Linked DNA regions of Homo sapiens. The protein of the gene in region 1 interacts with the protein of each later gene in a biochemical or structural test. Each region holds a gene or a part of one and is shown in the gene's direction. Other genes may lie near its edges.

Evidence for each region.
Region 2: the proteins of TRDN (region 1) and HRC form a complex in vitro, tested with the Homo sapiens proteins (one study listed by BioGRID).
Region 3: the proteins of TRDN (region 1) and CASQ2 form a complex in vitro, tested with the Homo sapiens proteins (3 studies listed by BioGRID).
Region 4: the proteins of TRDN (region 1) and CASQ1 form a complex in vitro, tested with the Homo sapiens proteins (one study listed by BioGRID).

The regions. Positions count from the first base shown.
Region 1 is NC_000006.12:123,633,947-123,641,515, reverse strand, and holds the start of TRDN (triadin), read left to right. Parts: upstream 1-4,565; 5' UTR 4,566-4,740; coding exon 4,741-4,762; intron 4,763-7,569. UniProt on the Homo sapiens protein: Contributes to the regulation of lumenal Ca2+ release via the sarcoplasmic reticulum calcium release channels RYR1 and RYR2, a key step in triggering skeletal and heart muscle contraction.
Region 2 is NC_000019.10:49,152,397-49,160,189, reverse strand, and holds the start of HRC (sarcoplasmic reticulum histidine-rich calcium-binding protein precursor), read left to right. Parts: upstream 1-4,793; 5' UTR 4,794-4,952; coding exon 4,953-6,783; intron 6,784-6,858; coding exon 6,859-6,929; intron 6,930-7,793. UniProt on the Homo sapiens protein: May play a role in the regulation of calcium sequestration or release in the SR of skeletal and cardiac muscle.
Region 3 is NC_000001.11:115,765,700-115,773,503, reverse strand, and holds the start of CASQ2 (calsequestrin-2 precursor), read left to right. Parts: upstream 1-4,789; 5' UTR 4,790-4,962; coding exon 4,963-5,196; intron 5,197-7,804. UniProt on the Homo sapiens protein: Calsequestrin is a high-capacity, moderate affinity, calcium-binding protein and thus acts as an internal calcium store in muscle. Calcium ions are bound by clusters of acidic residues at the protein surface, especially at the interface between subunits.
Region 4 is NC_000001.11:160,186,380-160,193,590, forward strand, and holds the start of CASQ1 (calsequestrin-1 precursor), read left to right. Parts: upstream 1-4,195; 5' UTR 4,196-4,372; coding exon 4,373-4,651; intron 4,652-6,422; coding exon 6,423-6,507; intron 6,508-7,211. Other genes in the region: ATP1A4 (sodium/potassium-transporting ATPase subunit alpha-4), read left to right, coding at 292-320. UniProt on the Homo sapiens protein: Calsequestrin is a high-capacity, moderate affinity, calcium-binding protein and thus acts as an internal calcium store in muscle. Calcium ions are bound by clusters of acidic residues at the protein surface, often at the interface between subunits.

The DNA.
Region 1 (7,569 bases):
AACTCTCTTACTAGACTATAAACTCCTTGAAGAAAAAAAAAATCCCTGTCTTAATTTTTGTTTCACTAGAACCTAGCCTAGTGCCCAGAGCAAATAGCTAATATAGATTTATTGAAGAAGGGGACTAATAAGTTGCATCATTATTAATAAGTAAGCTCACAAAATTGGTGACTCTTGGAGGTATTTAGTAATGATACACCAGATGCAGCAGATCACATTGTTGATAATGTGAAATAGCAAAATGCCAAGAACAAGATGACATTATAATTTTTTTCAAAATTAGAAATAGAAATATCCATTTAAATTATTTAAAAGAAAAAAATTTGTATCTAAGAATTGGTTATCAGATATTTTATTTTTTATAAGAAAAGCATTTGTGATTTTATAAGAAATAGAAAAAGTATAAATGATAAATTGCTTCTGAACAGCAACCAGGAACACAGACTGAAGGTCATATGTGATCGACTGCAGAATAGAAAGCAGTAATCTGAATTATGGACTCCACAGGGACCAACTACTGCAGGATACTGCAGATCTTCTTAAACAGGATAATGGTAGTGGACAGACGCCAGCTCTTCAGAGAATGGAATCTCTAAGAAGGAAGGGGCAACAAAGGCGATGGCCTTTGTTAACTAAAAACCAGATTGACAGAAAAATTTCTAAGAGAATGTTTGACAATGTCAAATGTGTGTGAGGAAAGAAGCCTGATATTGGAGACTCAGCTACTCATGAGTCAGAGTTAAAGAGAGGAAGGTTTTTAATTGCACTGGAATGCCTTCTGTCATTTGAAACGATCTGGATTACACAGTTTCTAAATAATCAGATGGTAAGCCAAACCTATGGAATGACTTTCAACCTTGATTAAAGAAATGAGCACAGGCCATTTAGAGATAGTAATGAGGGCAGAACGATATTTTCCGTGACACAAATAGAATACAAAACAATTTAAAACGAAGTGAACAACAGTGCTGAGATGAAGTAAGATTAATGAAATAATAGTTCAATAGAGGCTTTGCTTGTGATTCTGAATTCTAAGTTTATTAAATGTAAGCGTCAGAGAAATTTCTAGGTTATTTAATGTTATCTCAAGGTCAAATGAAGGCAAATAGTCTCACATTCACTTCCACTATTCCTAGTTTCTTCCATATTTCTTCATTTCAAGGGTTAAAAAGCCAACATTTATTCTTTACAAATTTAAATTGTGTTTGCCAGTTTTTCTTTACCTACAAAGCTGAAAGTAAACTTCTGTCTATTTTCCCTTGTGAGCTACTTCAACTGAGGCACTAAAACAGTAGCTTATATTTTGTTTGCTCTTAATTATGGAAGTTTTTTGCATCATGATACTCTGCCCTCTCCTTCTCTTTGTTGAAATCATTCCAGTTGGTTATTTTTGTCTCCTATTAAAATGAACCTGAAACCTTAGGTTTATGTGGAAGTTATGGCAATTATTATTTTAAAATCCAAGTAAATAGCTCTTTCTCTCCCAATTGTACATCCTACACATTTATTTGCACTCTGTTTAGACATGCTATATTGTACAAAGTGTGTTTCCATTATTTCCACTTACCACCAATTTGTGGGTAGGTTAGCAAAGTGTATAAGCCACTTGTGTCTGTAAATTAAGAAACAGAAAGCCTTGACAATAAACTCTAAAATTTACTTTCTCTCAAATATCCCCAGTCTCTGAGAAAATAAGTGAGTAATGGTAAATACCAATCTACACCCAACTATGTCTCTTTTTGCACATCATAGAGAAAACAAATCAGCACTGAAAGAGGTAATGCAGTATGGTTTGACTTTTTTTAAAAAATTAATTTTATTTTATTATGGTGGAAACAAATCAACAAAACTTCTCTGATTGCCTCCCAAATATTTTGCCATTTTGAAACTTGGTGTGGATGACAGTATTTTGCTCATAGCTAAATAGAATACATGTCTTATTGAGTGTTTATGATAATAGCAGACACAGGAGCAAGGTTTAAAAATTTCTCTAAGGGAGAATATTTTTATCTACTAACTTGAGTATTTAGAATAACTAGTGAATATTACAAGGGGTAATGATCAGTATAATCAGGTTGGAGATGCCCCTTGACCTAAATGCGACATTAATAGGAGAACAAATTTTCACAGTTTATCATTTACTTATATAGACTAGCTCAGTTATTAATGTCCTAATTTTATAAATATCCCTGTATGCAAAACTATGACAAGTCTACCTGTGCTGATTGTGCAGAAGTGGGATGTGAGAGTTATTCCAGGAGCTATTGCTGAGAAGAGAGAAATATCACTTTTGGGTCCTTTTGAAAGAGCTCAATGAACTGGTAACATCTCTTTAAAAATGAAGACCCTTTAAAAATAAAGAAGGGCAAATGAATCGTTTGTAATGTTTTATTCTTTGAGTTCCCTGAAGAGTAGGTGTACACACTTGTAAGAATGTCAGTTGCTTGGTTTCAGAAAGCTTGGCAGGGTTCCATTTGGAATTCAAAGACATACCTCATGAATGGAGTTTCAGATAAATTGAAAGAGTCCTAATAACTTTTCAAAATGAGAACCATGCCAATTTCTCACTGCCTAATGACATTCATCAACTCATCTCACAGAAAGGTTTGAAAAAGCTATTATCTTCAAAACATGTTTATTGTCTAGAATATGTTTTCTTTTATTTTTCCTTCCAGTATGTTTAACATGAAAATAGTGATTGGGAACTTAAGACTAACATCAATACTAGGAATTTAGTATTTCTTTTCTAGAGTCTTATTTTAACTTTTTATTGAGTAAAACTAGTTTGAAAAGTTGAGTTTTTTCCTGTTCCAGAGCCTAATTTTATTTAGGATCTGACCCATGAAAATTCTTAATGAGTTACATAAGATGTCATTCCTTCAGTTAACTACAATGAAAGATTATGAAAGTAACTGATGAATGGAGATATGAAGTGCTACGTTTTTCAAAACAATTGGAACTGCTGTGGCACTATTGACTGGAGATTCTTTGTGGGGGGCAATGTAAGGAGGGCTTTTCTCTTAGGATACCTCCTTAGACCAACCCAGAGCTCTGGGAAGCTGCTCTTGAGGATTTTGTATCTTTTCATCCCGCTAGTGGGCCTAATTTGCAGTGACCCCCTTTACCTTAAGTCATAGTATCTGCAACAAGGCCTCATTTCTTGGGGAAGATAGCAAACTTGTAGTTAAAAGGCTCTAGGCCCAGTCCTAGATATAGGAATTGAATAAAATCATGAATGTAATCATGTAATCATTTCCTCCTTGTAAATTAAGATTTGTTACTAATTTATGTATTCAGCTGGTAAATGAGCAACTTTCTATTGTGTCAGGAATGGGGGCAGTAGATTAAGACAGAACCACTAACAGGGAGGAGGTCATTGCCTATGGAAATAGCTGTTGCAGCACTCTTCTGAGCCTGAATTTTAAAAATAACAAACATGGCTTTGCTTCATGATCTATGAAGTACCATAGGAATTCGGGAGGTCTGAAAACGAAAAGTATCAAGTTCAAGCTAAAAGATTAAACTACAAGCATTTATTAGGTTGAATATGAGAATAAAATAAAAGTGTAGTCAACCCTTGATTATTCACAGATTGGCTAGAGTTTATGATTATCAATGCCCTTCGATTCTCCTTTTGCTTCCAACTACCAACTATTGAATATTTTTTTGCTCATTAACACCTGTCTAGGAGTGGGAAGGTGAAATGCTAATCAGCCAATTTGGTTAATTGTTAGTGGCTGCTATAATCCTTTTTTTTTTAAGTTGAGATAAGGAAATACTTTACTTAAATATTGGCTGTGGACTACTAAACTTTATGTCACCTTCCCTTCCTTTTTACTGCATGGATAAATGCAGGTATTTAGTTCTTAGTAAGGTAGTAGAGAGAATTAAAAAGATAGTAATTCATCAATCCAATGTTTTTCAAGTATCACACTATAAATTCACATTACATAATTCTTATTGGCCAGTGTTCAGAAAATATTAATCTTCTACAATATGACTACTTTAAAAGAAAGCTTCAAGATTTAATAGTTGCAATTTTAAGTGTAGCCCTATATAAATAACTGCACTTGCTAAGTGGATTTGTATCAACAGGAACATAACTTCTAGAAAATTACTCAAGACTACCCTCCCTTTTGCCTGTGATAGACATTTGGGACCCTCCCCAAACCAAATAAGGGAAAGAAGAATGTTCTGAGCATTAAGAGCACTAAGAATAAATCTGAGCTCTCACGGATAAGATTACTTTCAACTCTTTATTTCATGTTTTCTGACATAGACCCCAGGATCTGTAATTATCTTAGAGAAACTGCGGGGGCTTAGATGGTACTTTGTAGTTCATTTGGTTTTTTTTGTTTGTTTGTTTGTTTTTTGCCTTTCTCTCTTTGGGGCTGAAGAGCTGGTGTGTCTGTGTGTGTGTTCCTCTAGAGTGCCAAAAAAGAAAAAAAAAAGTGCTGAAGAGTCCTAGGGAGATGAGGCTATTTTTGTTTGAAGCTGATACTTCTAGCTGAGCCACAAGTGCTGCTTGGAAAGGGCTTAGGTTGTTTCCAGGGGGAGAACTCTGCAGAGGAGAGGCAAAGTTCAACAGGACAACAAAGAAGCAGCAGAAACAGCCAGGAAAACGAAGAGCCCCCAGGTTTTGACACAGAACCCTCCACCAGAGTTCTCAAATCCCCAAATACTCTGCAAAGTGCAACTTGACGGGAACTTTTCAACTGACTTTTACTTTTGACGACCACCATGACTGAGATCACTGCTGAAGGTATTGCTACCATTTTCCGATAGTATCAAGTAAGGAAAAAAAATATGCAAATCGACAGCCACATTAACTGTCGATGTGTCCATTTAAAATGTTGCTTTAAGGTAATTGCCTTGGTCAATGATTCTATACAGGATCTGAGAAGTGGATTTAGGAGCTGAGAGGCTGCCAGATCTGTATATTGGGGGAGCAAAAAGAGATTTCTCTTAAATTTTGCATGTGGAAACTGTTCTCTGCTATACCAAAGGCCCCACTAGTTAACAGTTGTTACTCACACCTCTATAAATAGCTATGGTCATGTAACATGATGGCCGATATCTTATCCAGCAAAAATTACAAAGTTTTCAAGGATGGAGACCATGATGAACTTAAAATATTACACTAATGCTTACTTAAAATATTACACTAATGCTTACTTAAACTTAAAAAGTAATTTGAAGCATTTCTGCTTTATGATATTTTTAAATGGAGACCTTAAATTTGTTTTTCCTTTCCTACTAGGGTATGTAAAACACACATACATATATATGATTTATATACAATTTAAGACATAAGTGTTCCCATAAAATTTGTATTTATTTGACCATTAATGGAAATTCAGAGATAAAGACTGGAATTCCACAAACTTACTGTGAATCAGTATGATTTTTAAAATAAAGCAATTAAGTGTTAGAATTCTGGTTCTTTTTGTAAATTCATTCTTCATTTTCCTCTAAATGGTAAATTCTATCTTTATGTTACAATAAATATTTTCTGTTTCAATGCTTTACTGAAAGCTACATACTATAATACATATCTTCTATTTGATGGTTGCTAGTTATATATATTTATATTTCATATATACTTCATATATATATGTACGTATTTCTTAGAATGAAGGAAACCTTCAAAACTAAATTACTTTGAATACAGACACAGTCTGGTTCTAGTTGAGGTAAAACTTTTGGAGGTGGATCTAAAATTTGCTTCTGACAGCTGTAAGAAAATCAGACAGGTGGTGCTCTTAACAACTTCCAAGTTAAATGCTGTGCTGGTTTGCTTTGAATAATACAACTGAAAAATAGAATATTTGTTTTTATTTTTGAGGGTAGAAATTAGTATGGACACACAGTAATTTCTGTTGGAGATTTTTAGTCAATATTTATAAGAAGTGCCTTATTTGTACCTTGCACTGAGAAATTCAGTCTGACACCTCGTATTAATAACAATTACTGAGAGATTTCTATGTGTTAGGTATTTTGCTCAGAACGTTATGTGTGTTTACTTATTTAAAACTGACACAATTCAATTAAGTAGGCATTATTATCTCAGTTTGGCAGAAAAAGGAACTGTAACTAAAATGTTATGTGACTTGCTCAAGACCAGCATTACCAACATTTAAACCCAGCCCCTTTAAATCTTGTTTGTGTGTGTGTGTGTGTGTGTGTGTGTGTTTTCTTTTCTGTGAGAGGATATCAGGTTTACTCTTTACCAATTTTAGTTCAGAATTTGCTAACTAAATATAAATAGCATTTTTCCTATTCCTTAGATATTCTGTGTCATGTTGCTTTTAGTTTGCCTTAAAGAAAGCTATGTATAAAAACTTCTTGTTTAGCTCTGCACAAGTTATTAAGATAGCTACGAGCGTCTTAATCTTCTGTTTCTCTACCTCTGTTCAGGGTTTGGGCTCCCAGGTGATTCAGGAGGTCAGTTGACTAAACCATCTTGGGCTTGCTTGTGGATTATGTTTTGTAGAACTTGCATTTGATTCAAAAGACTTTTTACAGGAAAATTCTTGATTATGAAATAGAGCTTTTGTTTCTGCCTTTGCTCTGCGGGGGTTTAAAAGGGCCTTGGAAGACCTTCTGGAGTTACCCATAAAAATAATTACATTAGTAATAAAATTAAAAAGTAGAAATACCATCTAATTCTTGGGTGATGGTCATTTTCCACTTCCGGGCCTTAACAGTTCATAGGATCTATGTTATCTGAACATCAATTATGCATTTTTTTTTGTTTTCTGGAATGATTTATTAATAATATTTCTCAAATGAAAATTAGACTGCCAACTCAAATGAACTCATCTTTTAAGGAAGCACAGTCATTCTTTGATGATATCCAAAGTTTTTTCACACTTTGTTACTACACAGTTTCATGTTATCTTTGCAATTCTCACCTTTTGTGCCCTAGCTACAATTGTCTTCCTCCAGTCTTTTATAAAAGGTATACCTTTGTACAGTGCCTTGGTACAGGCTATTTTCTGAGCCTGAAATAGTCTTATTTTATCTCATCTGCTATATTTTTTTCAACCATTTATTTATTTATTTTATTTTTTTTAGAGCAGAATTTTTCTCTGTCACCCATATTGGAATGCAGTGGCATGATCATAGCTCACTGCAGTCTCAAACTCCTGGGTTCCAGCAATCTTTCTACCTCAGCATCAGAAGTAGTTAGGACTACAGGTGTGCACCACCATGCCTGGCTAATTTTTTTTTTATTATTATTTTTGTAAAGACACGACCTCCTTATGTTGACCAGGCTGTACTTAACTACTGGCCTCAAGCCAAGATTCTCTTGCCTCTGCCTCCCAAAACATTGGGAATACAGGCAAGAACCATCACGCCTGGGGCTTGCAATCACTTTTGGACACATTACTGAAATGTAAGCACTCTATCAGTAGACCTATGCCACCTATCAATCAATTACCTTTTCCATCCATTTATCACGCACACACACAAAACAGTTTGTGGCACTTAAGAATATAAGAGATAACTCATTACCTTAGAAAGCTCTAGTTAACTGTTCTCATCTCAAGTTTTGGGAAGACAAGG
Region 2 (7,793 bases), on another chromosome or scaffold:
CCTCTCTCCAGCTCACTTTCAAATGTCACCTCACTAGCCACTCTTCCTCCCTCCAGAAACCATTAGTGACATTTTGTGTCCCCTCCCAGTCTTAAGCAAACACCTCCTCCCAGCTCTCACAGAGCCCAGTGGCTCGTCTTTGGGAGCTGCAACCCCTTGCCTTACTATAATTATCTTCTGCGTTTCTTCCTCCTCAGGCCAGACCAGAGTTTCCTAAATTGTCTTGACCACACTGACCTATCAGTAAAAAGGTTTTGAGCACTCACGTCCAACAAGCGCATATCTGTTTATTTATCCATCATTTACAAGCCATACTGCACTAATATATAGTCATAACAAAATACACACTGAAGTAGGAATGTGGATACTTCCCGCACCCCAAAAACTGTCTTGAAAAACAACTAGAGGGCTGGGCGCGGTGGCTCACACCTGTAATCCCAGTACTTTGGAAAGCCAAGGCAGGTGCATTGCCTGAGATCAAGAGTTCAAGACCAACCTGGGCAACAGGGTGAAATCCCGTCTCTACTAAAATACAAAAAATTAGCTGGGCATGGTGGTAGGCACCTGTAATCCCAGCTACTAGGGAGGCTGAGGCATGAGAACTGCTTGAACCCAGGAGGTGGATGTTGCAGTGAGCTGATATCGCAACACTGCACTCCAGCCTGGGCGACAGAGCCAGACTCTGTCTCAAAAAAACAAAAAACAAAAAACTAGAAAGCCTGGGCCAGGTGCGGTGGCTCACACCTGTAATCCTAGCGCTTTGGGAGGCCGAGGCCGGCGGATCATGAGGTCAGGAGATCGAGACCATCTGGCTAACACGGTGCAACCCCGTCTCTACTAAAAAAAAAATACAAAAAATTGGCCCAGCGCGATGGCTCACGCCTGTAATCCCAGTACTTTGAGGGGCTGAGGCGGGCGGATCACAAGGTCAGGAGATCGAGATCATCCTGGCCAACACGGTGAAACCCCGTCTCTACTAAAATACAAAAAATTAGCCGGGCGTGGTGGCGGGCGCCTGTAGTCCCAGCTACTCGGGAGGCTGAGGCAGGAAAACGGCGTGAACCCGGGAGGCGGAGCTTGCAGTGAGCCGAGATCGCGCCACTGCACTCCAGCCTGGGGGACAGAGCGAGACACCGTCTCAAAAAAAAAAAAAAAAAAAAAAAAACTAGAAAGCCTGGATCCGCTTGAGAGGCCGTCACTGAAGGGCGGGAGCTCCTCGCGGACGCACACACCCTATCTAGCTCAATTGGTGTCCCCGGCCACCAAGACAGGGCCCGCCCGCGGTAATAATTGCCACCTCCCAGTGGGAGCTGCAGATATTTCCCAGCGTCCTGTGCTGGGCGCTGTGCCAGGAATATCACAAGCATTAACTTGTTTAATTCTCATAATAACCCCAGGAGATCAAGCCTCTTTTGATGCCCAGATGAGAAACGGGACCCAGAGAGGTGAAATGATTTGCCCGAAGCCACACAGCACGTGTCCCAGGGGAAATTGGAACCCTGGCAGGGCCGTTGAATTAGGCTAAAGGGACCTTGGGAGCGCTGAGTGAGGGTTTCTTGCATGGATGGATGAATGAATGAATGAATGAATGAATGAATGAATGAAACAGAAATACCCAAAAGGGAAAGACAGAGACACAGAAAGTGACACGAAGAGACAGAAGCACATAGAAGAGACATCGGGGAGGAAAGAAGCAGAACCGAGCCCTGGAGCGTCTACACTGACCCTGAGCGGGAGAATGGCGAATGGGGAATGAGGGGTGTCTACACAGACCCAAACGCTCCTAGAGGGAGAGCGTCGGCAAGGAACGCCCTTGGGAAGGTCCCCGAGTCCAGGAATGGGGAAGGAGCAGGGCTGGGGCGTGACCATCCGCGGGCGGGGTCAGCGGGCCGCGGACCCTCTGGGGTCAGTCCAGGGGCGAACTCCTCACCCCGGATCTGTGGAGTCAACTATGAACGTCGTGCAGGTCTTCTTCTTGAAGATCTTGGGGATCCAGCTCTGGGGACAGGAACAAATGTAGGGGTGGAAGTGGGGTGAGAGGGCACCCAGTTCTGTCCTATGGGACACAGAGCCACCCACCCCGTGCGCTCCCCACGGACACAGGAGTCCGGGCCCCCAGCGCCCTCCCGCTCCAGACTCAGGAGTCTCGACCCCCATGCCCTGGACCCTGGAACCTGGACCCTCCCATCCCCCTCCTCCGTCTGACCCAGGAATCTGGGTGTCCAGCGCCCTCCTCTCTGGGAGCCTGGAGGCGAGGTCCCCAGCTCCGCGCTCCCGCAGACCCTGGTCCGGCGCTCACCTGCTCCTTCTCCGGCACCACCATGCTGCCGCGGCCGCCGCAACCTCCTGCAGCCCAGGGCCCCGGCGCTCCCTCCGCCGGCTCTGCTTCCAGACCCGCCCAGAGCAAACCGGATCCTCCACTTTCCAGCCTAGCCTGGGGCGGGGCGAGGTCTGGGGGGCGGGGAGTCTTGGAGACGCCAAAGCGGGAGGCGGGGAGAGGGCGGGTCCCAGGCCGCGATAAGGGGACAGAGGGACAGCGACCTGGGGGGTGCAGAGGTCCGGGCCGGGGGGAGAGAGACACACAGGGGAGACTCCAAGGGCAAGCGCGAGATGGGAACAGAAGGAGTTGGGGGCCAGTGGCGGAGAGGGAACAGACTCAGAAAGGAGGATGCCAGACAGGGAGGGGACAATTTAACCCAAAGAGGGGGAGACAAAGACTTAGGGGACAGAGAATCAGAAGGTGGGGCAGCAGGGACCCAGGGATAGACAGAGAGAGAGGGGGACAGAGACCCACAGAGAGAGGGGGACAGAGACCCAGGGAGAGGGGACAGAGACCCAGAGAGAGTGGGACAGAGACCCAGAGAGAGTGGGACAGAGACCCACAGAGAGAGGGGGACAGAGACCCAGGGAGAGGAGGACAGAGACCCAGAGAGGGGGGGACAGAGACCCAGAGAGGGGGGGACAGAGACCCAGGGAGGGGGGGACAGAGACCCAGGGAGAGGGGACAGAGACCCACGGAGAGGGGGACAGAGACCCAGGGAGAGGGGACAGAGACCCAGAGAGAGGGGGACAGAGACCCAGAGAGAGGGGGACAGAGACCCAGAGAGACGGGGACAGAGACCCAGAGAGAGGGGGACAGAGACCCAGAGAGAGGGGAACAGAGACCCAGAGAGAGAGGAGGACAGAGACCCAGAGAGAGGGGGACAGAGACCCAGAGAGACGGGGACAGAGACCCAGAGAGAGGGGGACAGAGACCCAGAGAGAGGGGAACAGAGACCCAGAGAGAGAGGAGGACAGAGACCCAGAGAGAGGGGGACAGAGACCCAGAGAGGGGGGGACAGAGACCCAGGGATGGGGGGACAGAGACCCAGGGAGAGGGGACAGAGACCCACGGAGAGGGGTACAGAGACCCAGGGAGAGGGGACAGAGACCCAGAGAGAGGGGGACAGAGACTCTGAGACAGAGGGGGACAGAGACCCTGAGAGAGGGGGACAGAGACCCAGAGAGAGGGGAACAGAGACCCAGAGAGAGAGGGGGACAGAGACCCACAGAGAGAGGGGAACAGAGACCCAGAGAGAGGGGGACAGAGATCCACAGAGAGAGGGGGACAGAGACCCACAGAGAGAGGGGAACAGAGACCCAGAGAGAGGGGGACAGAGATCCACAGAGAGAGGGGGACAGAGACCCAGGGAGAGGGGGACAGAGACCCAGAGAGAGGGGGACAGAGACCCAGGGAGAGGTGGACAGAGACTCTGAGACAGAGGGGGACAGAGACTCTGAGAGAGAGTGGGGACAGAGACCCAGAGAGGTGGATGCCAGAGATGGGGAGGAGACACCTTGACTGAGGCAAGGGGCAGAGGGGGATGCAAAAACCAAAGAATTGGGGGAAGGGCAGGAACTCAGAAAGGAGGGGCCAGAGATTTAGGGGAGAGAGAGGGACACAGACTTGGGGGAGGACTGACACTAAGATAAGAGTGGGACAGAAGCCCAGAGTGAGAGGGAGAGGCAATCCCATGGAGGAGGGACAGGGACCCTGAGAGAGCAGATGACAGAATTGAAGAGAGAGGAGGACCCGTGAACAGGAAAGGAGACCCTAGTGGGGGCAGTCATGAAGGGTGAGGAGTAGGAAATACTGACACACAGAGACGGGCAAGGCCACTTGTCTCCTGCCAGCCCTCTGTGATGGGGACAGCTGTGGCCTCCGTAACCTGAGTCCCCCTACCCCTCCCAGCTGTATTTATAGCCCTGGCCTAGCCCAGTCCCTGCCCCCAGATCTGAGTTCCAGGGACAGGAGGTCATGGGCACGTGTGTTGGGGGCCATGTTCCTTTCCCCCCATTCTAGGGCCTCAATACTGACATCACTCTCTCACCAGCACGTATCATTCCAGCTGGAAACACCCCGCAATCGAACCCCCAGTCCTTCCGTCCCAGGAGTCTCTCCCCTCTGATAAGTCTCTTCTGCCTCCCCCAGGTGCCCCAGGCTCCCCCAAAAACCTGCTAAAAGTCTAGCCTTTGTCTTTGCAGCTGCCAAACGTGAGCTTGTTGGTAGTTCAAAGTCAAGTCCCTTGGCCACCGTCTCCTGGCCAGGGAGAGACCCCTCACTGGTCCCCTCCCCAGCTGGGAGGAGGAGGAGCAGGAGGCAGGCAGGCGGGGACTGACCCAGAATAACTCAGGGCTGAGAGTAAATTTAGCTGGAGAGAGGGGAGGGGAAGGACCCTATTGGCTGGGGAATGGGGAGGGAGGGCCCCAGAGGGGGGTCAGGGGGCTCCGGAGACAGCCTCAGAGGGGTGTCCAGAGCCAGGCAGCAAGGACCAGAGGAAGGTGGACAGAGACCGAAAGGACAAAGGAGAGACACAGAGAAAAAAAGAGACCAACCCCAAAGGGACAAAGACCCCAACGTTTGTCCACATTGCCGCAGAGGCAGCTGGAGCCAGTGCTGCCTGTCCGTCCCCATGGGCCACCATAGGCCATGGCTGCACGCTTCTGTCCTCTGGGCTGGGGTGGCCAGCCTGCTCCTCCCCCCGGCCATGACCCAGCAGCTCAGAGGGGATGGGCTAGGCTTCAGAAACCGGAACAACAGCACTGGAGTCGCCGGGCTCTCCGAGGAGGCATCAGCAGAGCTTCGCCACCACCTCCACAGCCCTAGAGACCATCCAGATGAGAACAAGGATGTTTCCACAGAGAATGGGCATCATTTCTGGAGCCACCCAGACCGTGAAAAGGAGGATGAAGATGTCTCCAAGGAATATGGGCACCTACTCCCAGGCCACAGGTCCCAAGACCACAAAGTCGGAGATGAGGGTGTCTCAGGTGAGGAGGTCTTTGCAGAGCATGGTGGGCAGGCCCGTGGGCACAGAGGCCACGGGAGTGAAGACACGGAAGACTCAGCTGAGCACAGGCACCACCTCCCCAGCCACAGGAGCCACAGCCATCAAGACGAGGATGAGGATGAAGTTGTGTCCAGTGAGCATCACCATCATATCCTCAGGCATGGACACCGAGGCCATGATGGGGAAGATGATGAAGGAGAAGAGGAGGAGGAGGAGGAGGAGGAGGAAGAGGAGGCCTCCACTGAGTATGGACACCAGGCCCACAGGCACCGAGGCCATGGGAGTGAAGAGGATGAGGATGTCTCAGATGGACACCATCATCATGGCCCCAGCCACAGGCACCAAGGCCATGAAGAAGATGACGATGATGATGATGATGATGATGATGATGATGATGATGATGATGTCTCCATTGAATATAGACACCAGGCTCACAGGCACCAAGGCCACGGGATTGAAGAGGATGAAGATGTCTCAGATGGACACCATCATCGCGACCCCAGCCACAGGCACCGAAGCCATGAAGAAGATGACAATGATGATGATGATGTCTCCACTGAGTATGGACACCAGGCCCACAGGCACCAAGACCACAGAAAGGAAGAGGTTGAGGCTGTCTCAGGTGAACACCACCATCATGTCCCTGACCACAGGCACCAAGGCCACAGAGACGAGGAAGAAGATGAGGATGTGTCCACTGAACGTTGGCACCAGGGTCCCCAACATGTCCACCATGGCCTTGTAGATGAGGAAGAGGAAGAAGAGGAGATCACAGTCCAGTTCGGCCACTATGTTGCAAGCCACCAACCTCGAGGCCACAAGAGTGATGAAGAGGACTTCCAAGATGAGTATAAAACAGAAGTCCCTCACCATCACCACCACAGAGTCCCCAGGGAGGAAGATGAGGAGGTCTCTGCTGAGCTTGGCCACCAGGCCCCCAGCCACAGGCAAAGCCACCAAGATGAAGAAACTGGCCATGGTCAAAGAGGGTCCATCAAAGAGATGAGCCATCACCCCCCAGGACACACAGTGGTCAAGGATAGAAGCCATTTGAGGAAGGATGATTCTGAGGAGGAAAAGGAGAAGGAAGAGGACCCCGGCTCCCATGAGGAAGACGATGAAAGTTCAGAGCAGGGAGAGAAAGGCACCCATCATGGCAGCCGGGACCAGGAAGATGAGGAGGATGAGGAGGAAGGTCATGGCCTCAGCCTGAACCAGGAGGAGGAAGAAGAGGAAGACAAGGAGGAGGAGGAGGAGGAAGAAGACGAGGAGAGGAGGGAAGAGAGGGCTGAGGTTGGGGCCCCACTGAGCCCAGACCACAGCGAGGAGGAAGAGGAGGAGGAGGAGGGGCTGGAGGAAGATGAGCCCCGCTTCACCATCATCCCCAACCCACTGGACAGGAGAGAGGAGGCTGGAGGTGCCTCCAGCGAGGAGGAAAGCGGTGAGGACACAGGTAAGTGGCCTGGGCTGGTGTGGGTGGGAAGGAACCGAGTCAGCCTGGGTCACTGCTGCCCTCCTGTCCCCGCAGGTCCACAGGATGCTCAGGAGTATGGGAACTACCAGCCAGGGTCCCTGTGTGGCTACTGCTCCTTCTGCAATGTATGTCCCCAGCCCAGATCCACCCACCAAGGTGTCCCCAGAATCTGTCCCAGGGGCCCTGGGGTGGTGCTGTGGGAGGGCTCAGAGCAAGGGCAGGCCAGGGTCAGTTCTGAAAGAAAAGAGATCCTTCTGCAGGCATGTGAGGTGAGGACAGACTGAAGGCTGGGAGGCTGGGGCAGTGGTCCAGGAAGGAGAGGACAAGACCCAAGCTGCATCTTGGGGTGTGGGGACAGAGACAGGGGTCTGTGGCAAAGAGAGTCGGGGGAAGGAGGGATGGCACAGGGGCTGATAGGCTAGGGGGAGAATAGGCAGAGAGCGGGTGGAGAGAGCACCTGAGCCCACCCTGACAGGGAGACATGGGGTCGCCCTGAGATAGAAAACCAGGGGCAGGGCCGGGTGTGGTGGCTCACGCCTGTAATCTCAGCACTTTAAGAGGCCAGGGTGGGCGGAACACGAGGTCAGGAGATCGAGACCATCCTGGCTAACACGGTGAAACCCCATTTCTACTAAAAAATACAAAAAAATTAGCCGGGCGTGGTGGCACGCACCTGTAATCCCAGCTACTCAGGAGGCCGAGGCAGGAGAATCGCTTGAACCCGGGAGACGGAGGTTGCAGTGAGCTGAGGTTGCGCCACTGCACTCCAGCCTGGGCGACAGAGAGAGACTCCGCCTCAAGAAAAAAAAGGAAAAAAAGGGAAAGGAAGGAAACCAGGGGCAGGGGAGGGGAGGGGAGGCTGGTTTGGGGGGCAGATACAGAGCTCAGTGTTAGAGATAAAGAGGGTAGAGTCTGGGGAAGCGTCCAGGGTGCAGGGGTGGGCCAGGGGCGGGTACCTCCCAAGTGGCGTTAGAGTTTCCATCTAACCA
Region 3 (7,804 bases), on another chromosome or scaffold:
GAGGCTTTCAGGGAAAATCCTCTCCTGGCCTTTTCTACCTCTTAGAGGCTGCCTACATGCTTTGGCTGCTGGCCTGTGTCATTCCAGCCTCTGCTTCCATCCTCCATCTCCTTCTCTCACTCTGACCCTCTTGCCTCTGTTTCACAAGCATCCACCAGGATAATCCAGGCTAATCTCTCCATCTCAAGATCCGTAATTTAATCACATCTGCAAAGACTCCTTGGTCATATTAGACAACACACACACACACACACACACACACACACACACACACACACACACACACACAGGTTCTGAGGATTATACTGGACATCCTGATGGGGGGTGGGGGAATGGGAAGGCACTATTCCGCCTACCATACCCTCCATTTGGACCCTTTGATATGACCTCCATATTAGGGTTTTTTTTTTCTGTTCTTTTACTGCTACCCCTGAGAACCCTGTATTTCCCCCCTAGTTCCAGGACAAAGTAGCCCTAAGCTTTCCATTTATCTGTTCTTGTCTACTGAATTAAATTTTTCCTTCCTTCTTTCCTTCCTTCCTTCCCCTGTCCTTCCTTCCTTCCTTCTCTCTCTCTGTCTCTCCTTCTCTTGTTGCTGCTGTTAAAATACCTGGCTTTTTTTTTTTTTTTTTGAGATGGAGTCTCACTCTCTTGCCCAGGCTGGAGTGCAGTGGTGCAATCTCGGCACACTGCAGTCTCAGCCTCCCAGGCTCAAGCGATTCTCCTGCCTTAGCCTCCGAGTAGCTGGGATTACAGGCAGGTGCTATTATGCCTGTCTTTTTGTATTTTAGTAGAGATTGGGTTTCGCTATGTTGGCTAGGCTGGTCTCAAACTCCTGACCTCAGGTGATCCTCCCGCCTCAACCTCTCAAAGTGCTGGGATTCCAGGCGTGAGCCACCGGGCCCGGACACAAAGTAATGCTACAGATTTATTTAATAAGCATTTAATGAGAACTACTACTTGCTATGAGGATGCTGTGAACAGATGCTGCCCCTGAAGCAATGAGGTTCAGCGGGGAGAGGGAGAAGGATCTCCCGTGAGAGGAGTGTTTCCAAGGAGAAGTATAGTGTGTAAGGGGAGTGAGTGTCCGCTCCTGGTCTACACTGAGGGCCTCCTTGAGTAGGTGACATTTGTCAAAACCTGGAATCATATCGGTGGAGCTTTGGGGCTCTTTTTCAGGATAGCATTGATCTCTTTCTGCTCGTTTCTGTTGAGGAGTTTCCTGGTGCAGAGGAGGCAGGAAGGCTCCAGGGACCACCTGTTAAAGTTGAGAGAAAAGGAGGGCCTTGGGGTTGCTAACAGGCTTGTTTAGATCTGGCCAGAGGATGCTGGAGGCTCATGGAGCACAGGGCTCTAGACCCGAGCATTTCTGCACTCTTTCTACCAGGCCAATAGGCTGTGCTTCCTTCCAGGAACGGGAGCAAAGAAATAGGCCATTTTCTGTTTTGTCCACTGGGTGGAGTATTTTAGCCAAAGAAGGGTCCTTTGGCAGCAGTGACATTGTAGGCGATCTTTGCCTTGGAGAAGAGGCAAGCTTGGACTCGTCCGGAGTCACGCCCATCAAAACCCTCCTCCGCAGCTAACACTCATCAGACTTCATCACACTGTGTGTTGGGCTGAGGCCTATCCTGGTAAAAGAAAATCTTATAACAGATTTTAACATCTTAGAGCCAGAAAGGGGGCCTTAGGAGCTTGGTGACTCTAACCCTCTTTCACAAATTGGAAGTGCTAGGGCCCGAGCCTCAGGGCTCCTGACCTAATCACACAGGCAGGCGGAACGCAGGTCTCCTGCCTTTCTGGGGGCGGTTCTTTCTCTGAGGCACCTCAGAGGCGCCCAAATGGAGACCTGCAGACCTTCGAAGGGAGGCGTGAGCACATACGTTTCTCTTTGTAGATAAAATGGTCTGAGAGAAAAATCATTCTGCCACCTGTCAAGAATAAACAAAGTAAATGAGCTAGGTTAGATTAAGGGACTGTAGTTGGCGGCCACTCACAGTGAAGGACTGGAAATGGTTAGCAAAACAAGGGGCCTACGGCATATATTGTGACAACAATAAACATTTATTTGTATTGATTTGTGTGTTTTGTTCTACCCCTTCTTGTTTAAAAACAAAACAAAAAGTACCTACTAATGGCACATAAAAATGCACACATTTCAGCACAACCACATAAACTAGAAGTACATGACACATTGGCTTGGGGCGCAGCTAAAGCTGGAACAAAACAGCTGATTTGCAGGATGTAAGGTTGACTCAGAAATGTGTGAAGCATTCTTTGTTTAAAAAATAAATGAATTGGCTGGACCTGGTGGCTCACACCTGTAATCCTAGCACTTTGGGAGGCTAAGGCAGGCGGATCACCCGAGATTGGGAGTTCAAGACCAGCCTGACCAACATGGAGAAACCTCGTATCTAATAAAAATACAAAATTAGCCAGGCGTGATGGCACGTGCCTGTAATCCCAGCTACTCGGGAGGCTGAGGCAGAAGAATGGCTTGAACCTGGGAGGCGGAGATTGTGGTGAGCCGAGATCGCGCCATTGCACTCCAGCCTGGGCGACAAGAGCGAAACTCCATCTCAAAAAAAAAAAAAAAAAAAAAAAATTAAAGTTGGTGAGCAATAAGACAGAGGAAAAACAAAAATAGGAAAATGAAAGGCAGACAGAAAATAAGCCTGGTACGTTAAATGTAAACTATGAAAACCTACCTTTTGCTGAGAGTGGGGCATGAATGTAGACCTCATATCTACCATGGATGCTTGGGGGAAACCTGATCACCACAGCATATGTCAGTGGCTGCATGTCCTCAGGGCTGGGCTGCCTGGCCCAAATCGAGTCCATGATCTAGGGGCAGGAACTTTCCACAGCTCGGGCTTTTTGTAGTAAACCAGAGTTGAAGGCTAAACTAAAGTTTAAAAAATTATTTCTTTTCCCTTATAGTTTTGTCAATTATAAGTCAGAAGGAAATTAAAAGACTCTGACTTTAAATAGCTTCCAATTTTTCAGTAACAGTTAAAAAAAACCTACTTACATATTAAGAAAAGTGGAGCAAATTCTAAATAAAGGTAACCCAGTGAGATCGAGACAACTGGGAACAGTCTGGGGAGGCTGACCTCAAAAAGACAAGACACACATTGTTTCACTCGGAAATCTTTTTCCCCTTAAATTTCCTAAAGAAAGCAGAGATCTTGCATGCTTGCCACTGACTTGGAAAGCTAAGTGCACCTTAGAATGGATATTCTTGGCTCCATCTTTTGAAAACTTAGAGACTACACCATTAGAAAGAACGGAATACCGTCAAGGGTTTTAGTGATGGGTTCTTCAAGGCCCCAACTTTCTGCACATGAGAGTGTAGCATCAAGACAACCCCTTATCAGCCTGACTCTCAGTGTAAGGCCGTCTGACTGCAGGGGAGCCTTGCTTTACTCAGAGAGGCCACGGATCTTCTCTTTGCCTTCTAGCCCCTGCAGAAGCTGTGCATGACAGAGTACTCTGTCTTTCCAAAGCTGATTTATAACTGAAGGAGAACAAAAACTTGGTCAGAATCATGAATGCCCTAGATGCCTTTGAAGAGTGGAGAGACATGACTGGACTAGGGTTGGACTGGAAGAGATGGTCAAGAAGGTACTTAAGAAAAGGGGTGTCTGCAAGGGAATCACCCAGAGTCAGAGGCAAAACAGCCAGGAGCAGCAGCTTTGAGGCAGGGTTGGATTCTTGCTCCGGCAGTTAGAAATGCTGCAAACTCAGACAAGTTGCTGTTAGCTCAGCGGTAGGATGAGCCCTGATCCCTTTTGCCCCAATTGCCTACTGGATTCAAGGAGAAAATGGACAAGAAAGGGTTCACAAACCATTCATATTAGAAACAGACAAATATCCATTATATAACCAATGTTCCACCAGCTCCAATGAGAAGTAAGTATAATAGCTACTATTTTTGAGCACCTATTTTGTGCCATGCTTTTTCATCTATGTGTTTGAAACTTTATGGTTATTATCAGCCCCACTTTACATAGAGGGGAACTGAGAATCAGAGAGGGCAAGTGACCCTCCAAAGTTCATTAGCTGTTAAAAGGCAGAGTAGGGATTTGAACTGTGAACCTTGTTTCATTTTAGTTTAATGAGGACAGGTTCTTCTGGTGTCAGCTGGGTTCAGCAGGGTGTCCCTGCACCCCTCGCCCAGTGGCTGGCAGAGGATTTTTAAGAAGAGAGGAGGGAAGGCAGAAAAAGACAGGAGTAGAACATGAAGAAGTCTACCTCGGGGCTCCATTTTGTTCCATGTTGCAGTGAGGAACAGAGGATGAACAACCACCGTGAGGGGACAGGCTGAGTTACCACCCTGGGGTGATTTAACAATTCAGTAATGTATGAGTGTCATTCCGTATGTTTGAACTCTCCATTTGCTTATTGGCACCATAGTCCCTTATCTCTCTCCCTCTCGAGTTTCTTTCTCTTCTTTGACCTTTCTAGCCTCCTTATTTCATGCGTGTACATTCTTGTCTTTTTCCTTCTGCCTCTTCCCTCTTCACCAGTCGGACAGACTGTATCAGCGAATCCCTCTACAGTGTCGTATCTAACTTTTTTATTCATTGCATGATTTATTTTTAGCCTGAAACAACTGCATCCTAAAAATGGAGTTCCTAATGAGACAGAGGCTGAGCAGAGCTATGTAAGGTATCTGGGGCTTGGCCTCCCAGCCTCCCTAGCTTGGCTGTTTTTCTACTCTCATGCGTGCGTGCGTGCGTGCGTGTGTGTGTGTGTGTGCCTCTGCTCTTTGTCCTGAGCCCACGATTCCAGAGCTGGCTGGACCCAAGGAGGTGAAGAGTCACTTTTCAGCCCCAGGAAGGGCAAAGAAGAGAGAAAATCAGCCTGTCTGCTCTCTCCTTGGCTCAACAAGGCCTCTAACAGTCTTCTGTCCTCTATTCTGCACACAGCATATTTGGGAACGAGAAACAAAAGTTTTCCCAAATGAAGAGAACTCACTTGTTTATTGTGGGGATTTATTTTCTGTCCTCTTGCAGGGCAGAAGAGGGGCTTAATTTCCCCACATATGATGGGAAGGACCGAGTGGTAAGTCTTTCCGAGAAGAACTTCAAGCAGGTTTTAAAGAAATATGACTTGCTTTGCCTCTACTACCATGAGCCGGTGTCTTCAGATAAGGTCACGCAAAAACAGTTCCAACTGAAAGAAATCGTGCTTGAGGTAAGTAACCAAAGGGCATGCTGTCTGCGCTGCCTCAGTGAGGTGCCGAGGGAATGCCTTTGGCCAGGGGTTGGGATATGGGAACGAGGATGCAGAGAATATATACTGAACTCTGCTTTATTTTGGCCTCACGTGAATCAGATGCCCTTGTCACACAGCTGGGATGTGTGAACAATGAGGGGTGGGTCCTAACTCTTCAAATGAAGAGGACCAAACGTGCTACACTACGATGGGTCTGATGTAAAGTCTTTATGGCCCCCTTGACTTTTCAAGGGCCCTTGTCCCAGCCATTGTTTCCCAGATAGAATGTAGAAACTATTGTTAAAACTGTTGGCTGAAATGAAATCCAGGGACTACTTGTGGATTTCATTCAGTGTGCCCACTTTGCTCCCTCAAATCTCCCCATGATCCTGGAGAGACCAGAGTTACTTGACCTTGCGTCTCTCTGGGGGTCAGACGGAGAATATCACTAAATGACTTTCCTCTCTCTTGTTTTGCGTCAGTCAGCATTACAGAATGTAGTTGTGTGCAGATCTTCTGAGCAGCATATTCATTTATGTGATTTTTTTTCTCAGAAAGTTCTTGGTGTGACTTTAGGGCAGAGCTGAAGTCAGTTCTTATTTTATCCGCATTACATGGCCTGCCTGTTTGTAACCTGGCACTGGGGCCCATTTTCTAATCCTTTGCGAGTGCCCCAGAAACTATTCCTGCAGCTCCTCCTGGACAGCTTAAGATGGCTTACACTTTAAGAGGGCCTGAGGGTGCCAAGAATGCTAGTGGGCACCAAGATGCCTCATCAGTCTCCACGCCTAGCCCAGGCGCAAACCTGTGAAAGGGATATTTGAGAATTACAGTTTATTAACCAGCACAATCAGAGAACTCAGGTTGATGAAATAGTTTAATAGGATTATCATATAAAACCCATGTGGATTTGAATTTTTTCAAATTGAAAAATTGACTGTAATAAAATCCAGCAAAACTATCCCAAATACATCAAAAGTATATCTCCAACCTTGGGTGCTGAATGTGGAATTTCAGTTCTCTCTGTGGGTTGCAAGAAAAGAGAAAGCAGGGATAGTTATTAAGACTTTATTTTATAGAAATGAGCAAATCACAGGCTGGAAAAGAACGAGACATAGAACTTAGCTGCTGCTTAGCACATGAAACCAACACTTACATTATATCTCCATCTCAAACTGCCATACTCAGTTATCAAGAGACATTGTTATGAAAACTTAATTGAAGGCATAAGGATTCTCCCCTATATGCTCATCGCTGTCCAGTTAGCCTAGAACTCCAAAAGAATGCCTTTGGGTGGCCAGTACAGGCAAGGACATTCATTTCTGATTCTAATTTTTTTTAAAAAAGAAATATCTTTCTATCATCCTTCTATCTATCTATCTATCTATCTATCTATCTATCTATCTATCTATCTATCTATCATCTCTAGCTCCCCCAAGTATATCTGTCCCCAAAGACTATGCAAAATCATGAACAGAAACTTCCCCTGGGCTTACCATCCCTCCAGACACCTTTGATCCAAGAGTGCCCTTTTCACAGTGGGTGCCGGCCCAGCAGAGACCGATAAGGAAAAGTTCACCACAGGAGTTAATTTGATGCCCCTCAGGCTGCTAAAGCTGGAGTGAGGCATCATTAGGAGAAAAAGAACACAGACCTTGAAGTCAGGATATCTGGATTTAAGTTCTGGCTTTGTCTCTACTAGGCACAGGACACAGGGCAAATTACGTAATTTCTCAGAGCTTCATTTTCTTATCTATAAATATGGAAAAATAGTAACTATCATGCAGCTTAAGAAATGATTAAATAATAATAATGTTGATTAAATGCTTACTAAGTGCAGGGACTGTTCTAAGCACTTGGTATGTGTTAGCTTGTTTAATCCTTACAATAATTCTATTAAGTAGGTACAGTTACCAATTCCATTTTATAGATGTGGAAACTGAAGCAGAGAGGCTAAGTTGTCCAAGGTCACACAGCTACTACAGATGAAGGCAGTTGTACGTAACACCTACACGGTACTACTCCTGAAATCAGTGCGAAAACGCCCAAGGGGCTTCTGGGTAGCCTGTTTAAGATGGTTTCAAGAGTCTTCCTTAAACAGAGTTGCTCAGCCTCTGGACCCGGGTCTGATGATGCCAGCTGTACACCAGCATGGCCGAGAAGTACATGGCCTGGAGGCGCTGCTCATGCAAAAGTGCAAACTGAGGAGGAGGCCTGGGCTCCATTAGTGAAGGTTGAGGAAGGGGCGGGCCTTTGTTGAGATACTTGTCAGGCGCAGCATCAAGGGAAAAAATGGCTCCGGGAAGTCCATGAGTGGAAAGAGCGAACATGCCTTTAAACTTTCTTCATGGTCAAAACATCTATTTTGTCCTCTTAATCCTCTAGACCCCACACTTGCACTAAGAAAAATAGTCTGTCAGCTTCCAGGGCTGTGGCTGTTAGGGGGTAGGGGGAAAAGAGGAGGCAGTTCCCAGTGTCCATCCAACAGGCAGTGTGGTCTCAGCCACGGACAAATAGCTGGAGGGGAGGCAGCTCCCTTCCCCCTCGCAGCTTAAGGCGGCTTCTGACACTTTTTATCATAACCGAC
Region 4 (7,211 bases), on another chromosome or scaffold:
TGGGCCCCGCTCTGACTGAGTGGTCACCAGCCCCCTCACTAGCTCTCCCATCCCACCTAGTCCCTCCAGACCCACCACTGACTTTCTCCCCTCCTCGCTGCCAGCCTTGACTGCGCCTGGAGCCGAGACCTCTCTACCCCTTGGCTGCACCCCTCTGCTCCATCTGACCCTCAGTGCCCTGTGTTCCAGACCTCCCACCTCCAACCTTGTCCCTGCTTTCCCTTCTGCCTGTCTCCCCTGGATGCCTCTAATTCCTTCTCCCAGTTCACGCTGGCCTCTTCTCTTCCACAGGCTGGGTGGAAAGGGAGACGTACTACTAAACTCAGCAGATGAAGAGCTTCATGTGACACAGGGGTGTTGTGAGAGCTGGGATGGGGCCAGAGATTATAAGTTTGACACAACATCTGAGACACTAGGATGAATTATCTTGGATGAGAAAGATGGGCAATCCTGGGCTGGCTTGAGGGAATCATGGGCAGAGGATGAGGTGGGCTGAAGGGAAGCCCAGCCTGCATCTAGCTGGAGCCCCGCAGGGAGGGGCATGGTCCTGCTGAATCCCGTAGCCAGTCTAGACAGTAAATGTCTGGAAAAGCCCTCACCAGCTGGATGTGTCAAATCTGATCTTGGGGGAGTGGGGATTACTGTGAAGCTCCCTCCACAGGTCTTCATGATGACCAGGCTGGGGAAGTGTTTTAAGGACCAGAGTCAAGGCTGGGATAGGATCAGTATCAAGCATCCTTGCCCTTTAAAGTCACTCTCCGAGCCACTGGACAGCAAGGACAGGGCAAATGACTGCCTCAAAATTCCAGCTGAGATCAGAGAAATGGAAGGTGGGGGAGAGAGGAGCAGCTAAGTCACACGTGGGAAGAGGGTCCACAGCATCCGCACAGGGGGTAGGTGGGGTGGAGTCATCTGACCCCACCTTGCAGTTCCTGAGACCAGCTTGCAGACCACAGCGCTGTGGTGCTAGAAGAGATCAGATTGCATCAGTGAAAAGCCTGAAGTCCAGAGAGGTTAAATGACTTGGGAATGGCCATGTGCTGAGTGTTGTCCCTCATCTGAGAAAGGGACAGGTAGGAAGGACAGTCTCCAGGCATACTGGTGGTCCCTGCCCTCTACCCTCGGTCATCAGGGCTCCTCAACCCCATTCTGGCCCTCGGCCTGTTTTCTCTGGTGTAGCCTTGAGATAGAGGCTGTAACAAGACTTTCTGAATCCCTGTGGCCTTTACTGTGAAGCAGCCGCCCCTGCTCTGCACGGGGTGATGGACTTTCCCAAGAGCCTGGCCTCTGTGCCTGGGCCCAGGTGCATTCTCAGATGAGTGAAAACTCGTGGAGGGCCTTTCTCTCCTGCCCACCTTCGTCTCAGCATTTCTTCCTTCCCCTTCACCCGCTCATTCACTTTTGCTCTGTGAGCCCCTCCACTGTGCCATGTGGGTCAGTTCATTCTCAGGCCTCTTTCAGAGTAGAGCATTGGCTGTTCCCAAATGTGTACAGGGTGGAAGAGAAATGCTAACGAAAGCTAGGGGAACACCATCAGCTATTTCCACAACAAAACACATATGTACTAGGTGTCTGCACACTACACCTAACACTGGGACGAGGGTTTTATATACACACCATCAAGAAAGTCACATAAATGTTTCCCTACCACCCACTCCATGTTACCCAAGAAGAAACCAAGGTCTGTCCATTTTCAGAACGTGGGCCCTTAATCACTTTCAGACTAGTCTTTCAGTGAGGGCTGGGCCAAAAATACACAAAAACAAAACAAAGCAAACAAAAAAAATAGGCTAGTGATGGGGAAGGACCCGGGGTGGGTCTGGAGGATGAGAGGCCATGAGCTAGCAAAGAGAAGGCCATCGTGAGTATCGCCCGCCATTTTCCCTACATCAGGCCCCTCCTCAGAGGTCTCTCTCCCTCTTCTCCTCCCTCTTCCATCACAAGGTCTCCTAGGAACAGTGCTATATCAGCCTGGGGTCCTTCCCCAATTGCTGACATCGCTGAACCAGACCCTGGAAGATCAGTGGGCCAGGGTATATGTGAGTGAGGTGGGAAGCAGGAGCACAGAGGGGCCAGCTCCTCAGGTTTCAGTAGCAGGAGCTTCAGGTGTCTGGTGGGTTAAAAATACAGAGGCCCCAACTCACGGTCATTTGATACCAGTGGCTGAGGCTTCTCAAGTCCAAGGGCCTGAAGGGAAGGAGACTGAGTAGAAAGTAGACAGAGTGAAGCATCAAGAGAGAGCAGTGGGGGCGGGCGCTGGAAAGGGGAAGGGTGGGACTGGAGCCAGAGAGGGCAACGAGAGGGAACGGGATGGATGGCAATGTCCGGTAGCTGTAGGAAAGGACCAGGAGATGGAACAGACTCGCCACCAGAGTCCCATCTCATACTCTTGGGGGTACAAAAGGTCAGATTCAAGATGGAACAAGTTTTATGCTCCAGCGTCTCTGTCCCAGTGTCTCCCGCCTCCCCTGGAATGCAGAAGTGAGAAATCAGGGCTGGACATCACCTAGATCATCTGCTTCTGGGCAGGCCTCCCCATCTCACCTGGCTGCCTTTGCTCTGGCCTTGGGGCTTTCCCACGTTAGCCACTCTTCAGGGAGACCAGGATATGGGCTTCTGAGGTCTCTTCAGCTCCAACGTGCTGTGCTTAGGCTAGCTCCAACCTCTCCTGCTACAGTGACAGCTGTCCCTCTTGGCCTCACTCCTGCCATGCTTTTGAGATTTTCTGTGGCCTTCCGTGTTCAGCTGTGTAAGGTCCACCACACAGACATGTGGAAAAGTTATTCTGCTAACATAATTACATGACCCTCCCTGGATGCAAAACAAAACAAAAAAAACACCACTGTCCCTCTAGAATCAGAGATACCTCAGGGTGCAGTGGCAGCATGTGACTTTGATCTGACCCTCTATGGTCTCCCTCATGCCTCAGTTTACCTGTGCATAGTAAGAACCCTGGAGGGCCATGAAGAGGATCCTTCCTTCCTACGTATCCAGAGTTAAACTCACTACTCTGTCCTCACCCCCCAAGCTGGATCCAGAAGTTTAAGCCCCTACCCGCCCATCTCTGCTTTGGATCTCGGGTGCACAGAATTAATCATCAGTCTTGGTTCAGGGCACAGGGTTCACCTCTTCATGCTTGCCTAATGTTAATTTTTTTTTGCCCTGGTGTCAATACCTGATCCTCTTTGTCTTGTCAAAGACATGGGAATAAATAGTAGCTATTCACTCTCCTTGGAAGCATGCAGCCTGGGAAAACCTCCCTTCCCACTGTGCCCCAGAAAACCGAGTCCCATAGGATCAGGGTAGGGAGTGCACACACAGGTGGCAACCAAAGGACAGACCCCTTCTCATTGTGGGCTTTATAGGCAGAGAAACCCCAAACCCACATCTCTACAGGACAGGATCTGGGCCAGCCCTGTCCTTCCCTGCATTCCCAAGTTAGGAGTGCTGAGTGAAGCAAAGGAAACTGGCTGGAGCTGAGCCAGGTTGCCAGTCTTGGACGCGGCTCCATCTTTTATTCAGAGAATGACCTCATCCTTGGTCCTGGTTCTTTAAAAGAAAGTGGAGGGGGTCTCTTTCCTGCAGCCTGGCTTGCACTTTTATCGCCCCACTCTCCTACATAGTATCAAAGAATCAGAATCAGACTTCACCTACAGAAGATTCCCAGGCTTTAGGACATAGAGCCAATACCACATTTGTCCCCCTTTTGTCCTATATTATCAATTTAGCCTCTGACCCAGTTAGCTCCTCCTCTCCACTGCATTTAACTTCTAATTACCCTTGCCCCACCCTCGGCCCACCCTAATTACCCTTATACCTCCCCTCCCCCAGCCCCAGCTTCATTTACCTCCGACTCATCTGGTCTTATTTTTAGCTCCGGCATCTCTCCTTTTCCTTTCTTAATATGGCGATGAGCTCTTAGGCCAGTGTGGGGACCGGGGCTGAGGTGCCCTGGACACTGGAGGAGGGGGAGGGAAGGAGCCCCTGGGAGCCTGGGGTAGAAGTGTAGGAGGTGGGAGGATTCCGGCCCGCATGGAGCTGTCCTGGCCTCAGAAGGTTATCCGTCTCTCCTGCCAACCATGGAGACATATTTAGACAGGACCAGGTGGGGACTGAGGGGTGCCAATTTCAGGGGGCAGCTCCGGTTCCCTCCCCGCCCCCTGCTCCTATTCCTCCACCTGACCCTTTTTCCCTTGGCTCTGTCGGCAGTTTCTCCAGGACCCAGCAGTGCCCTCTGTCCACTGCTCTGGGCCATTCCCCAATCCCCCCTCCCACTTGAGCCCCTAACTCAGAATCTGGGACCCAGGGGCCCCTCCCTACCCCAGCTAACCTCTTCTGGACCAGGAGAGCCAACCCAGATCCCACTACCTCCATGAGTGCTACAGACAGGATGGGGCCCAGAGCTGTGCCGGGTCTGCGGCTGGCACTGCTGTTGCTGCTGGTGCTAGGGACACCCAAGTCAGGGGTACAGGGGCAGGAAGGGCTGGACTTCCCTGAGTACGATGGTGTGGACCGTGTGATCAATGTCAATGCAAAGAACTACAAGAATGTGTTCAAGAAGTATGAGGTGCTGGCACTCCTCTACCATGAACCCCCCGAGGATGACAAGGCCTCACAAAGACAATTTGAGATGGAGGAGCTGATCCTGGAGGTGAGTTGGGGGCACTGCAGGCCTGCAGAGCATGTCTAGCCCCTCTCCGGAATCCCCTATCCTACACCCATGTAGCTCTTTGAGGATGGGATCTGGGGGTGAGGGGCAGTGTGGTAGGAACCCTGTCCTGACCAACAGGATGCAAGTGGCATGTGGCTTTAGTCAAATGAGAAACAGAGTCTCAGGAACCCAAAAGTACTATCAGCGTCAGGAAACCTTTAGCAGGGGTGCTGCAGGAAGAGCTCCCCTCCCTGCTATAGGAGGCTGGTAGTATTTGACTTAGGTTTGGCTAGGACACTGAGGGTGAAAAAGGGAGGTACTTGGAGGGCCAGGGGAGAACAGCAGTGTATATTGCACTCCCCTACCCCACCCATCTGCTTAGCCAGAACACGTCCTCTCCACATACTTCAGGGGCTGCACCCCAAAGAGATCCAAACTGAGTGTAAATGTAAATGTTATGATACTTGCATGCCATGTTTAAATATCTCCTAGAGATCATGCCTCCCATTGGACTCCCAGTCCCCTCTCTCTTCCTTCCCCCTCCCTAATTCCCCATTTGTCTCCATTGGATAAGCTGGATGCCCTCACTGGAAAATTCTTATGGTTGCAGGAGGTGTCAGAATGTCTTCCCCAATCTTCTTTTTGTGGGAAAAGTCTCCTCACCTCCAAAATGACTTCAGGCCCAAAGGAGAAAGAAGTTATCATAAGAAAAGAAAAAAAACCTATGTTTGGGAATGTGTTCATACACACACACCTTTAGGAAATGGGATGTGAGTTTTCTTGTCCAAGCTCCTGTGGCCCCTTCTCTGGCCTCAGCTTGTCCAGAGCTTGGAGCATTTCAGGGTGAGACACCAGAACCACAGGCTCTCATTTTGTGCACCCCTGCTGGGTGCTAGAACCTGCCATCTGATTAATGAGCCGAGTATTTTTATCCTGAGTGCTCAGTATCCCTGGCCATCCACCTGCCAACCGCCTCCCTTCCCCACCCCTCTGAGAATCACAGTACCTGAGTCTGTGCTGAGTGGGGGTAGAGCTGCAAGCTGTGCCCACAGCAGAGAAAATCAGGGTTGAACGCTAAGCTGGAAGGCTTATGGGGGCAGGGACCTCCAGGTGTGACTGTCCACAGCCTAAGGACAGGCTGAAGTAGAGTGCGAAAGGGGAAAGTTGGGCCCTGATGGGGAGAACTGTCCGGTCGCTGTCAGTCTCTCTCCCTCTGGGGGGTAACAAATGGTGACCTCTTATCTCAGCTCTCTGGCCTTCCCCAACTCCTCAACAACATGACCAGACCCACCACTACCCTCCCACCCTCCAAAATTCTTCCCATTGGGAGTCACTCTGAAGAATCTCAGGGACTTCCAAGATCAACCCCACACTGAGCTTGGCCCTTGACCAGGGACAGGGACCTCCAGGTGTGACTTGAGCAGGATGGAATGCAGGACTCAACCCTGAAGGAGGGAAGGGGCCCTCAGTCACTCTGAAGCCAGACTCCTCAGTACCTCTTAGGCACTGGGAAGTATTGAGTGCAGTGTCTTCAAGTCCAACATAATAAGCACATTGCAAATGAGCAATCAATATTCATGAACTAAGTTGAGCCAAAAACAGAACTGTGTGGCTGTAGGGAATTTGGGGGATATTCTGGATCTTAGCAAAGGGTCAAGGTCAACTCTTATATCTCCCGCACCTCAACTGACCCAACTTGAAAGCATGAGAGGGAGAATAGGGGATAATAAAAATTCCAGGGGCTAATTTTAATCATAATCCTTCCCTCCAGTTAGCAGCCCAAGTCCTAGAAGACAAGGGTGTTGGCTTCGGGCTGGTAGACTCTGAGAAGGATGCAGCTGTGGCCAAGAAACTAGGTAAGAGAGGGGAGGGCAGGGGAGGGGAAGGTGGCATTGAGACAAGGGGAGGCTTAGGGCGGAGGACCTGTCAGGCAGTCCTTGGGATCCGAGGGGCTTGGGAATCTCTCAGATTTATGTCTATTCTAAAAGAGGGGGTGAGAAAATATGAGGTTGGGAGGGTTATGGCTCGGAGACTCTGCCTCTCTATTCCTTATGAAGTTCCATGCTCAAATCCCAGAAAGAGGTGGGGGAGGCCTTCTTTATACTTACCTTAAAACATGGCTAGGTGCTGGAGGGAAGGGGAGTCGGGGAATACAGGCGGGGCTGGCCAGACCTCTGCAAACTCCGCTTCCAACCCCTCCCATCCAGAGCCATGGTTGTTAGAGCAGTCAGCCACTAGGGGGCAGCACAGGCTTGAGACGGGATTCTGGACATGCATGGGGGAGGGGTGGTCAGTAATAATGAAGTCATCTGGTCAGTAATAGCAATTAAAGAGCTTGACTGGGAACCAGCTACTAGAGTGCTCAGAGGGGGTGGCATGAATACTCATCTCTAGTCGTTGCGGTCAGAGAAGGGGAGAAATACTGCTAGAATCTACACCTCTCTATTCCCTCCCCTCACCCTACCTGATCCCCCAGCTACTCCCTAGAAAGCTCTGGGGCCACGCTAGCCCCCTAGGCTTAATCCAGGGGCAGAGACCTCAGGCCTGTCGGCCTCTGGGT